3 linked regions of the Homo sapiens genome follow. The protein of the gene in region 2 purifies or fractionates together with the protein of the main gene of each other region. This does not show direct contact. Each region holds a gene or a part of one and is shown on either strand. Other genes may lie near its edges. The genes, in order: UBR1, MRM1 and ZER1.

Evidence for each region.
Region 1: the proteins of MRM1 (region 2) and UBR1 purify together in Homo sapiens (affinity purification with mass spectrometry; 4 studies listed by BioGRID and IntAct, with this or other methods). This does not show direct contact.
Region 3: the proteins of MRM1 (region 2) and ZER1 purify together in Homo sapiens (affinity purification with mass spectrometry; 4 studies listed by BioGRID and IntAct, with this or other methods). This does not show direct contact.

Annotation. Positions count from the first base shown.
Region 1 is NC_000015.10:43,099,338-43,103,083, reverse strand, and holds part of UBR1 (E3 ubiquitin-protein ligase UBR1), read left to right. Parts: intron 1-3,746. UniProt on the Homo sapiens protein: E3 ubiquitin-protein ligase which is a component of the N-end rule pathway. Recognizes and binds proteins bearing specific N-terminal residues that are destabilizing according to the N-end rule, leading to their ubiquitination and subsequent degradation.
Region 2 is NC_000017.11:36,599,396-36,603,141, forward strand, and holds the start of MRM1 (rRNA methyltransferase 1, mitochondrial precursor), read left to right. Parts: upstream 1-2,187; 5' UTR 2,188-2,415; coding exon 2,416-2,957; intron 2,958-3,157; coding exon 3,158-3,251; intron 3,252-3,533; coding exon of another isoform or gene 3,534-3,548; exon of another isoform or gene 3,549-3,746. Other genes in the region: DHRS11 (dehydrogenase/reductase SDR family member 11 precursor), read left to right, coding at 276-368, 577-642, 767-808. UniProt on the Homo sapiens protein: S-adenosyl-L-methionine-dependent 2'-O-ribose methyltransferase that catalyzes the formation of 2'-O-methylguanosine at position 1145 (Gm1145) in the 16S mitochondrial large subunit ribosomal RNA (mtLSU rRNA), a universally conserved modification in the peptidyl transferase domain of the mtLSU rRNA.
Region 3 is NC_000009.12:128,765,222-128,768,967, reverse strand, and holds part of ZER1 (protein zer-1 homolog), read left to right. Parts: intron 1-3,746. UniProt on the Homo sapiens protein: Serves as substrate adapter subunit in the E3 ubiquitin ligase complex ZYG11B-CUL2-Elongin BC. Acts to target substrates bearing N-terminal degrons for proteasomal degradation with the first four residues of substrates being the key recognition elements.

The sequences.
Region 1 (3,746 bases), on a different chromosome or scaffold from region 2:
CAATTCTTGTGCCTCAGCCTCCCAAGTAGCTGGAATTACAGGTGTGTTCCACCACACCTGGCTGATTTTTGTATTTTTAGTAGAGACAGGGTTTTGCCATATGGCCAGGCTGGTCTCGAACTCCTGACCTCAAGTGATCCATCTGCCTTGGCCTCCCAAAGTGGTGGGATTACAGGCGTGAGCCACTACGCCCAGCCCGGATAAGATCTTTGAGGAGGAAAATGTGTGCATATATATACACACACACAGAGGAAAAGAGAGTGAGACAGAGATGATGAGAAAGAGAGAACAGGAATGATTGAAACGGGTGGAAAATGGAAGAATGAGGTAAGAACGTGGAAACAATAGGCAAGCACGTAGGAGGTGAGAGTAGTGTGATGGCATGGGGTATTATTTTGAGAGGGTGGTTTATTGGGTCCATGATAATGAGGACTGAGAAAAATTGGGAATCAAGAGACTTGTGAGGTAGTCTGCCAGAACTTCTGCCTTCTGTCTTCCTCGACTAGATTTTCTTCCTTAAGTCAATTTCAGAAGATACCTCTTGGCATGATACTCAGCTCTTTTCTATTGCCTGTTTATAACCTCTACCTAGGGGATTTCATCTAGTTCTGTGACTTTAAATACCATTTGTATGTATTCAGTTCCCAAATTTATATCTCTGTGTCATCTCACTTCTGAACTCCAGAATCATAAATCCAACTGCCTACTTGACATCTTCACTTGGATGTCTGGTGTTTCAAACAGTGGGAGCAATTAAGAAGTTGCTGCTGTAACCCAAGCCATAGTTGATGGTAGCTTGCACTGGAAAGGTTATCCTTGGAGATAGAGTGAAGAGGATGAATGTGAGAAAGATTTTAGAAGGATGGAAGAAGCAAAAAGACTTGCTGATAGATTAGGCATGAGGCAAAAGGTAAGGAATAGATGATATCTGCATCCTCAGTTTTTGGTTTAAGCATTCATGGCAGCGGTTGTGTTGTTTCCAGCGGTATGATCTCGGCTCATTGCAACCTCTTTGTCCCAAGTTCAAGTGATTCTCTTGCCTCAGCCTCCCGAGTAGCTGGAATTACAGGCATGCACCACCATGCCTGGCTTTTTTTTTTTTTTTTTTTTTTTTTGTGAGCCAAGGTCTCTCTCTGTCGCCAAGGCTGGAGTGCGTGGCGAGATCTCGGCTCACTGAAACCTCTACCTCCCGGGTTCAAGCGATTCTCCTGCCTCAACCTTCCAAGTAGCTGGGATTACAGGTGCCTGCCACCACGCCTGGTTAATTTTTGTATTTTTAGTAAAGAGAGGGGTTTCACCATGTTGGCCAGGTTGGTCTTGAACTCCTGACCTCAGGCAAGCCGCCCACCTCAGCCTCCCAAATTGCTGGGATTATAGGCATGAGCCACCGTGCCCAGCCAGTTTTTTTGTATTTTTAGTAGAGGTGGGGTTTCACCATATTGGCCAGCCTGGTCTCGAACTCCCGACCTCAAGTGATCCACCCACCTCGGCCTCCCCAGTTGCTGGGATTACAGATGTGAGCCATCGCACCTGGCCTTGGTTGTGTCATATATTGAGAGGAAAGACAAGATTTTAGGAGAGGAAAGGAGAAAGGCAGATCAAGAGTTTTGTTGTCCCTGTCTCAGTAGACAGCACCTCCATCATAGCTCTTGAAGACAAATAATTCTGTCTCCACCCATGTAGTCCAAGTCACTCTCTGTTGTCTTGGCTACTGCAGTGACTTCCTAACTGGTCTGTTTGCTTCCACTGTTGCCCTCTTCCTGTCCATTCTGCACAGAACAACCAGAGTAATCTTTTAAAGATTAAATGAGATCATGTCAGTCTCCTACCTAAATCCTCAGTGGCTTTCTCTTATACTTATAAACTCATTACAAGCCTTCAAGACTTTGCCTGGTCCAGCCCCTGCATCTCCACCTCATTTCCTGTTACATTCTCCTCACTCATCCTGGCCTGTTAGTACAAGCCCAAGCTGTATTTTGCTTTAGGGTCTGTGCTGTTGCTTGCTGTTTGCTTTTCCTAGAGTGTTCTTCCTCTGCTTTTTCTTAATACACACTCTGTCTAAAAGATGGGTTCCTCTTATTCTCTGTCAAAGCAACCTGTTTATTTCTCCCATTTCAATTATTACAATCTGTAATTACTGTATTGTCTTTATTTACTTAGCAAAATGTCTGTTTCTTCCTCCAGAGGGAGAGGTAAGTTCCATGAAGGGAAGGATCATGTGTGACTTGTTCATTGATGCATCTTTTTTTTTGAGACGGAGTCTCGCTCTGTCGCCAGGCTGGAGTGCGTGGTGCGATCTCGGCTCACTGCAACCTCCGCCTCCCGGATTCAAGCGATTCTCCTGCCTCAGCCTCCTGAGTAGCTGGGACTACAGGGGCATGCCACCATGCCCAGCTAATTTTTGTGTTTTTAGTAGAGACGGGGTTTCACCATGTTGGCCAGGATGGTCTCGATCTCTTGACCTCATGATCCATCTGCCTCAGCCTCCCAAACTGCTGGGATTACAGGTATGAGCCACCATGCCTGGCCACATTGATGTATCTTGGTATGTGATTGATACAGAAGACACTTAAATATTTTTAAATGAATGAATAACTGAGGATCAACATTAATGATTTATTGTAGTAAGATTAGTAGTGATTGGTGGATGGAGGTTGTAGATAGAAAAAAGGGAATGAGCCGGCATGTTAGGGTAGTGGCTAACCTTCGAGTCCAGGCTGAACAGGGAGGTAATAAAAGCCAAAACAGGAAATCTGGAGGGAATTGGTGGGATTGAGGTGTTAAAGGGCATGAGGTTGACATAAGTGGGAGGACTGAACTTTGTGGTCAGAAAGGGGCATTTTAGAATTTGAGTACATGGGGGCACATCAAGTTTTTGTGATGGTAGAGCCAGGTTAAAGGCACCTCTTGGCCTGGTGCAGTGGCTCATGCCTGTAATCCCAGCACTTTGGGAGGCCGAGGTGGGTTTATTATGAGGTCAGGAGATCGAGACCGTCCTGGCTAACATGGTGAAACCCCTTCTCAACTAAAAATACAAAAAATTAGCCGGGCATGATGGCGGGCGCCTGTAGTCCCAGCTACTCAGGAGGCTGAGGCAGGAGAATGGCGTGAACCTGGGAGGCGGAGCTTGCAGTGAGCTGAGATCACACCACTGCACTCCAGTCTGGGCGACAGAGTGAGACTCCGTCTAAAAAAAAAAAAAAGAGGCACCTCTTGTGTGTTCCTATAGCACCCTTTCTATACTCCTGTTTTATGGTTTTATGTAGCGTGTCTCAGACTGTACTCTACGTTACCTGTTTACTATGTGTCTTTCCTTCTAGACAGTGAAGTTCTTGAAGGCCTGAACTGTTGCTTGTTCACAGCTGTATCTAGTTTCTAGCACATTGCTTCAAAGTTTTTATTGAATGTATGAATGAATGAATGAATGAGAAGACACTGAGGTAGAGAGGAAGTGGGGGTAATAGAAGCTGAGAATGTTAAGAGATATTAACATTATTGAGATATAATTTACATACAATAAAATGTACCCATTTAAGGCGTTTCTTGGATAAATTTTAACAAATGTATATACTTGTGTGACTACCACCAAATCAGGTTATAGAATATTTCTGTTATTTCCCAAAGTTGTCTCCTGCTGAAATGGGAGGATTTTTTAAAAGTTTAATATTGTTATGGTTACGCAATAATCATTATGGAAATCAAAGAAAAATGTACCCATAATCTCATATCTGTAGGGGAACTTTTTT
Region 2 (3,746 bases):
CTAAGCCTCGGCCTTCTCACTTGTGAAAAGGAGATGATGAGCTTTTCAGGGACACTTTTTTGTAAAACGTTTACCTGACATATAGGAAAGGCTCTGTAGATGGTAGGTATCATTGTGGTCACTGCCAGTGGCAGCTTCGGAGGGAGGAGGCCGCTGCCGGATATCAGGCAGCCATCACTGTGAAGCTGGGGTTCTGTGGCCTCCATCCTCTCCCCTCGACCTCCCCAAGACCTGGCAAAGCTCAGCCCCTGAGAAGGCCCTCTCTGTTGGCCCAGTGCATCTCTCCAGGTGTGGTGGAGACACAATTCGCCTTCAAACTCCACGACAAGGACCCTGAGAAGGCAGCTGCCACCTATGAGCAAATGAAGGTGGGGCCTCCCTCTGAGCCTGGTGAAGCCACTGACTCCCTAAATGAAGGCAGAGGGAAGCTCGGCCTTCAGACTCCACTCTTCCAGCCTTTGTGGCTCCTCCTGGAGGGTTGGGGTGGATGTGTGGATGCCACAGAGAAGCTCAGTGGTGGGAGGGAATTTGAGTCCATTCTGTCCTTGTCTCAACCCATTCCCCTGGTGCTCTCAGTGTCTCAAACCCGAGGATGTGGCCGAGGCTGTTATCTACGTCCTCAGCACCCCCGCACACATCCAGGTGAGTCTGGCCCTGACTGTCTACTCACTGGAGGAACCCAACCAGCCCCAGAGGAGGGGAGCAGGGAGCCCTGCAGGGCCAGGGGAGAGTGTCACAGCTGCCTCATGCCTTGTACCTTCCACAGATTGGAGACATCCAGATGAGGCCCACGGAGCAGGTGACCTAGTGACTGTGGGAGCTCCTCCTTCCCTCCCCACCCTTCATGGCTTGCCTCCTGCCTCTGGATTTTAGGTGTTGATTTCTGGATCACGGGATACCACTTCCTGTCCACACCCCGACCAGGGGCTAGAAAATTTGTTTGAGATTTTTATATCATCTTGTCAAATTGCTTCAGTTGTAAATGTGAAAAATGGGCTGGGGAAAGGAGGTGGTGTCCCTAATTGTTTTACTTGTTAACTTGTTCTTGTGCCCCTGGGCACTTGGCCTTTGTCTGCTCTCAGTGTCTTCCCTTTGACATGGGAAAGGAGTTGTGGCCAAAATCCCCATCTTCTTGCACCTCAACGTCTGTGGCTCAGGGCTGGGGTGGCAGAGGGAGGCCTTCACCTTATATCTGTGTTGTTATCCAGGGCTCCAGACTTCCTCCTCTGCCTGCCCCACTGCACCCTCTCCCCCTTATCTATCTCCTTCTCGGCTCCCCAGCCCAGTCTTGGCTTCTTGTCCCCTCCTGGGGTCATCCCTCCACTCTGACTCTGACTATGGCAGCAGAACACCAGGGCCTGGCCCAGTGGATTTCATGGTGATCATTAAAAAAGAAAAATCGCAACCAATCTGCCTTGGCTTCAGGAGTGTCTTTCCATTCTTTCCCCTTCTCTGTGATCAGGGGTGCTTGTGTCTCAGAATTTCTTCCAGGTAGGTCCCAGGTGGGTGGATTGGGGGCCTCACTCATGGGAGTATGGATTACCTTAGGTAGCAGGAATGGGTTTGTTTGGGCCTTGAAAACATGTAGGAGTTTGACAAAGCGAAGACAGGTGTGCAAGGCTGAGAGGTCTGGAAGAGCATGCAGTGCTGTGCGAACAGCTCAGAACTTAAGCACAGGAGCAAGGAGCCAGATGGGGCTGAAGAGGCAGCTCCTTCCTGCCTTCCTGGATCGCTGGGGGGCTGAGTGCTGCGCAAGAGTCTCGCCATTACCTGTGGGACGGGGGCGTTAGTGAGCTTGTCAGCAGGAACACGACAGGCTCAGAGTCACTTAGGAAGAGAATCAGCGGCCCGGGATAGGAAGTGACTGTTGGGGTCCTGCTGGCTGGTGATGGGCTAGTGAGAAGTTCTGGGAAAAATCACCAGCGCCGGGATGTGGGGAGGGAGGCAACAAGACTGAATTGGTTGACCAGGAAGGCCAACCCATCTCCTTAAAGGGCCCTTCACTGGTGCGTGGGTGAATGCGGTCCCCGGCCTCCTGGGACCTCGAGGAACACAGGACGCAGCCGGTAGTACGGCCAGCTCAGCTCGCCGCTCCTCTAGCCTTGAGGGAGGCGCTGTGGGGGACAGCCTGGCAGCCACGCATGCGCAAAACACCGTCAGGAAGGGGCCGGGGAGGGGCGGGCTCCCGAACCCGGAAGCGAGGGACCCACGTGGGAGCCTGGGAGCGGGTGGTCGTAGCTCGGTAGTCCAGTTGTGGGTAATCGGGGCTGTTTGTTCCTGTCCGAGAGAGCTCGGCGGAGACGGCTGTCGAGTACCCTTCACCTCGGTGTTGGGAGCCTGGGAGCGAACTGCGGCGCGGGTTACCGCTCCCGGGGACGCAGCAAGGGGCATCGAGTCCCTGGCGGGAGCTGCGCCATGGCATTGCTCTCGACCGTCCGGGGCGCGACCTGGGGTCGCCTCGTCACCCGTCATTTCTCCCATGCAGCGCGGCATGGGGAGCGGCCTGGTGGGGAGGAGCTAAGCCGCTTGCTGCTGGATGACCTGGTGCCGACCTCTCGGCTGGAGCTTCTGTTTGGCATGACCCCGTGTCTCCTGGCTCTGCAGGCCGCCCGCCGCTCTGTGGCCCGGCTCCTGCTCCAGGCGGGTAAAGCTGGGCTGCAGGGGAAGCGGGCCGAGCTGCTCCGGATGGCCGAGGCGCGGGACATTCCAGTTCTGCGGCCCAGACGGCAGAAACTGGACACAATGTGCCGCTACCAGGTCCACCAGGGTGTCTGCATGGAGGTGAGCCCGCTGCGGCCCCGGCCTTGGAGAGAGGCCGGGGAGGCGAGCCCAGGCGACGACCCCCAGCAGTTGTGGCTCGTCCTCGATGGGATCCAGGATCCCCGGAATTTTGGGGCTGTGCTGCGTTCCGCACACTTCCTCGGAGTGGATAAGGTCATCACCAGCCGGAGAAACAGGCACGGACGTCCCTCATTCTCTATGTGCCCCAACTTGGAGACGCAGCCGAGTTCCTAAGCACCTTGGCCCTTGGGTGATCCCTTAGCCAGACTTACCTGTCCCAGAACTCTCATCCCCCTAGCCCTTGGGAGCCCTGGGAGGGTAGGGAGCCGGGCTTGAGATGGCCCAGCCTAATGCGGGGAACGGGGAAACCTTGCAGCTGCCCGCTCACTCCAGTAGTCAGCAAGTCCAGCGCGGGGGCTATGGAGGTGATGGACGTGTTCTCCACTGATGACCTCACCGGATTTTTACAGGTAATGAGGGGCAAGAGGGGAAGGAACAGATGTGAGCCCAGCTCAGCCTCTTCAAGGGGACGAAGCTAGCCCCTGGCGAGGGAGAGAAAGGGGCATGTTGGCACCGCTTCCTTTGGCCTTCTAAATCCCTCTGGGGATGGAAGGGTCCTGGAGTTTTTAAAACGGCAAATGGAGCATTAGCTGAATTCTTCCTAGCGTTATACCCTTTCCTGCACCCCTTCCCCAGGTATGCACCACTTTGCCTCTTCTGTAAGTCAGCCTCAGTGTCTATTTGCCTACTAGGTCGGGCTTCAGTAAATGCATTTTGTTCAGCTGTGGGGAGCTGCGTACAGGAGACCTGAGTTCCTCGAATAGGGCACAGCTTGAAAGGATGTTTGAACAAGAAGATCTTTATGCCATTAGTATCTAGCAAGAGACAAACCTTGGAAACCCCTCTCCCATCCGTTTGTCTTCAGCTGTGCTTCCCTTGCTGGACACAAGGAGGCAGTATTGCTC
Region 3 (3,746 bases), on a different chromosome or scaffold from region 2:
TCTCTAAAAAAAAAAGAATTAAAATGAGCCCAGCAAATTTCCATTCTACCACGTAAAATAGGCAAAATGAGGGTGTTGAAATGAATGTGACTTGGAGACAGGTGGGGAGGGGCAGTGTATGCTGGGCCTAGATATGTGGTTGGAGTGTGCGTGGCTGATCTACGGGTAGAGGCTGGTGATCCGGAAGTGCCCGGCAGAGGCTGAGACTTTCCAGCCTGCTTTATAGGAAGCAGAACCACAGTTGATCTCCCTCCTTATACCCCAAGCCCGGACTATATCCTCAGGCCTGGGACACAGGCTGAGCAGGGCAACTGGGCCAGAGAATTTGAAAATGAAAGGTCAGAGCACTTAGGAGCTGAGAGCCAGCATGTTGGGGTAGGCTGTTGTGGGTAGAACCCCAGGCTGGTGACCTGCGGACCTGGTTCAAATCCCGGCTCTGCTGTTGGCTTGCTGTGTGAGTTAGGCAGGTTCCATCTCCTCTCTGGGCCTCAGTTTTCCTATTTGTAGATTAAGAATAATGGCCTTCCCTTGCCTCCGACTAACTCTAAAGGCTGTTGGGAGGATGAAATGAGACACAGCTTGTGAAAGAATTAGGTGTGTTCTGAAGCTCTCTACAAAGGTATTATCATTAGTACCACTAGGATTATGCAGACACGTTTTGGGGGCCCACTAGCTGGAAGACTGCTCTTGGCACTCTGGTTTTTTTGCTTGGCTTCAGTACCTCATCTGTTCTGGAGTCCTGAGAGGTGAGTGCAGAGACCCCTGTCTGGTTATCTATTTGTGGACCACTGTCTTATATCTGGCGCAATCGCTGAAACTGATTTTCCAGCTTCAGAGATGCAGAAGGGTCTCTTGAAGCATTATTCTCAGGAACATCACTCTTCATAATTATTGGTTACCACCTTCCTGCCATCCTTTCATGGCATCTCCTCAGCAACCCTGTTCACAACACGCGCAACACAGCGTGTGCCACTCGCAACATGCTGACAGGTAAGGACCTTGATAAATATTGAGGCTGGAAAACATTGGCTGGGGATCTTGTGGAGCCGAGGCCCTGTCACTGGCATTGAGCCACTCACATACTCTGTAATGGAGACCCCAGAAATCACATAGGGTCCCTGCCCTCAGGAAGCTTTCAATGCTGTGGCCAAAAAATGACATGCCACGGAGTGGTTACCAGCAGTACTGGATCATGTGAGCTCAGTGCCTGAGTTGTAAGGAAGCGGCGGAGGCTCGTGGAACAGAAGGGAAAGCTGAGGTTGGAGAAATGGTCCCTCCCCATAGCATAATGGCAAGGGGCTCGAACTTTAGGGTCACACACTTACCGGAGGAACAACTCATTGCTCATCTTTCAACCATTGTTTCCTTATCTGGGAAACAAAATGATAATGTATTATCATATTGATAAAATGTTATCTGTGGCAGCTGGGTGCGGTGGCTCACACCTGTAATCCAGCACTTTGGGAGGCTGAGGTGGGCGTATTGCTTGAGCCCAGGAGTTTGAGACAAGCCTGGGCAACATGGTGAGCCCTCATCGCTACAAAAAATAAAAAAATTAGCCAGGTCTGTTGGTATACGTCTGTAGTCACAGCTACTCCAGAGGCTGAGGTGGGAGATTGCTTGAACGTGAGAGGTGGAGGTTGCAGCGAGCTGAGATCGTACCACTGCACTCCAGCCTGGGTGACAGAGTGAGACCCTGTCTCTTAAAAGAAAAATAAATAAATAGGCCGACCGCAGTGGCTCACACCTGTAATCCCAGCACTTTGGGAGGCCGAGGCAGGTGGATCACCTGAGGTCAGGAGTTCGAGACCAGCCTGGCCAACATGGCAAAACCCTGTCTCTACTAAAAATACAAAAATTAGCCTGGCATGGTGGCGGGCACCTGTAATCCCAGCTACTTGGTTGGCTGAGGCAGGAGAATTGCCTGAACCCAGGAGGCAGAGGCTGCAGTGAGCCGAGATTGTGCCATTGCACTCCAGCTTGGGCAACAAGAGCAAAATTCCATCTCAAAAAAAAAAAGAAAGAAAAATAAATAAATAAATAAATAAGTTATCTGTGACTTTGATGCGAACTGCTTGGAAAGCTGGACACACTGGGTCTTTTTTTTTTTTTTTTTTTTTTTGAGACGGAATCTTGCTCTGTCACCCAGGCAGGAGTGCAGTGGTGCAATCTCGGCTCACTGCAACCTCTGCCTCCTAGGTTCAAGCGATTCTCCTGCTTCAGCCTCCTAAGTAGCTGGGATTACAGGCATCCGCCACCATGCCTGGCTAATTTTTGTATTTTTAATAGAGATGGAGTTTCACCATGTTGGCCAGGCTGGGCTCGAACTCCTGACCTCAGGTGATCCACCTGCCTTGGCCTCCCAAAGTGCTGGGATTACAGGCGTAGGCCACTGTGCCCAGCCTGACACACTGCGTCTTGAACTAATGAACTACCTGTGTACATATCTGTCTGTTCAGATCCATAGTCTCTGGCAAATTGCATAGCCATAGCCCCTTCCTTCCAGCTGCCTTTTCTGTAAGTTGTAGATGGTAACTCCTGCCTTGTTGGGTGTTGAGAGAATTCAATTAATTAACACATATAAAATACTTAACAGAGTTCTTTTTTTTTTTTTTTTTTTGAGATGGAATCTTGCTCTGTTGCCAGGCTGGAGTACAGTGGTGCAATCTTGGCTCACTGGAACCTCCACCTCCCGGGTTCAAGCAATTCTCCTGTCTCAGCCTCCTGAGTAGCTGGGACTATAGGCGCCCGCCACCACGCCCTGCTAATTTTTGTATTTTTAGTAGAGACAGGGTTTCACCATGTTGGCCAGGATGGTCTCAATCTCTTCACCTCGTGATCCGCCCGCCTTGGCCTCCCAAAGTGCTGGGATTAGAGGCGTGAGCCTCCACGCCCAGCCAGAATTCTTGGTATATACTTGGTATTCAGTATGGGTAGGATCATTAATACATTTGGTTACAAGAATAGAACCCAACCAGTCTGATTACTAGCCGAATGCAGCCTCCTCAAGGCCTCTCTGTCTCCAGCATCATGAGCAGCCACCTAGCTGTGAGGCACACTCCCCAATTATTGTGTGTCTGCATCTTTCTGACATAACCCAACTCATAGATTTAATCTCTGCAGACTTTTCAGAGCCAGGTGGCGTCTGGTTTTCACCTGTTTCCCGACCACCTGGAGATCCCCACACTTGCTGTGACTCCCCTCACACCCCCAGTCTCTGGCCCTTGATCTGCTGCCTCCTGGAAAGCGTCTAGCCTCTGTAAATAGGGCATTTGTTTGGGTTTTCCCCCCAGCTCCTAGGTTAATATTTCACAGGGTGAGTACTGCTCCAAGGCTCAGAGCTTCTGGCTCCCCCAACCTCTCTGTCCTCTGGGTATCAGGACACTGGTGGGATCCCATGCTCCCACCTCCAGACTTCAGTTTCTCTTTCCCTCCCATTGTTTGGATGGATGGACTGAAGACCAAATATTTGGTGAGAAGCGGGGGTCTGCTTTAGGTTTGCATCCCACTCTCATCAGTTTTGTGATCTCAGGCAAGCTTCTGCTTAGTTGTGTATGCGTCAGTATCTTCATCAGAAAATGGGGTAATAATCTCTATCTTGCAGTACTAGAGTAAGGGAATTCCAGCCACAGCAAACCTTTGTTCTATTAAACACCAGGCATAAATTGGGCACCGAAGTCAGACACCAAGGATACAGGTGCGTGCGCGCTTGCGCACGTGTGTGTGTGTGTGTGTGTGTGTGTGTG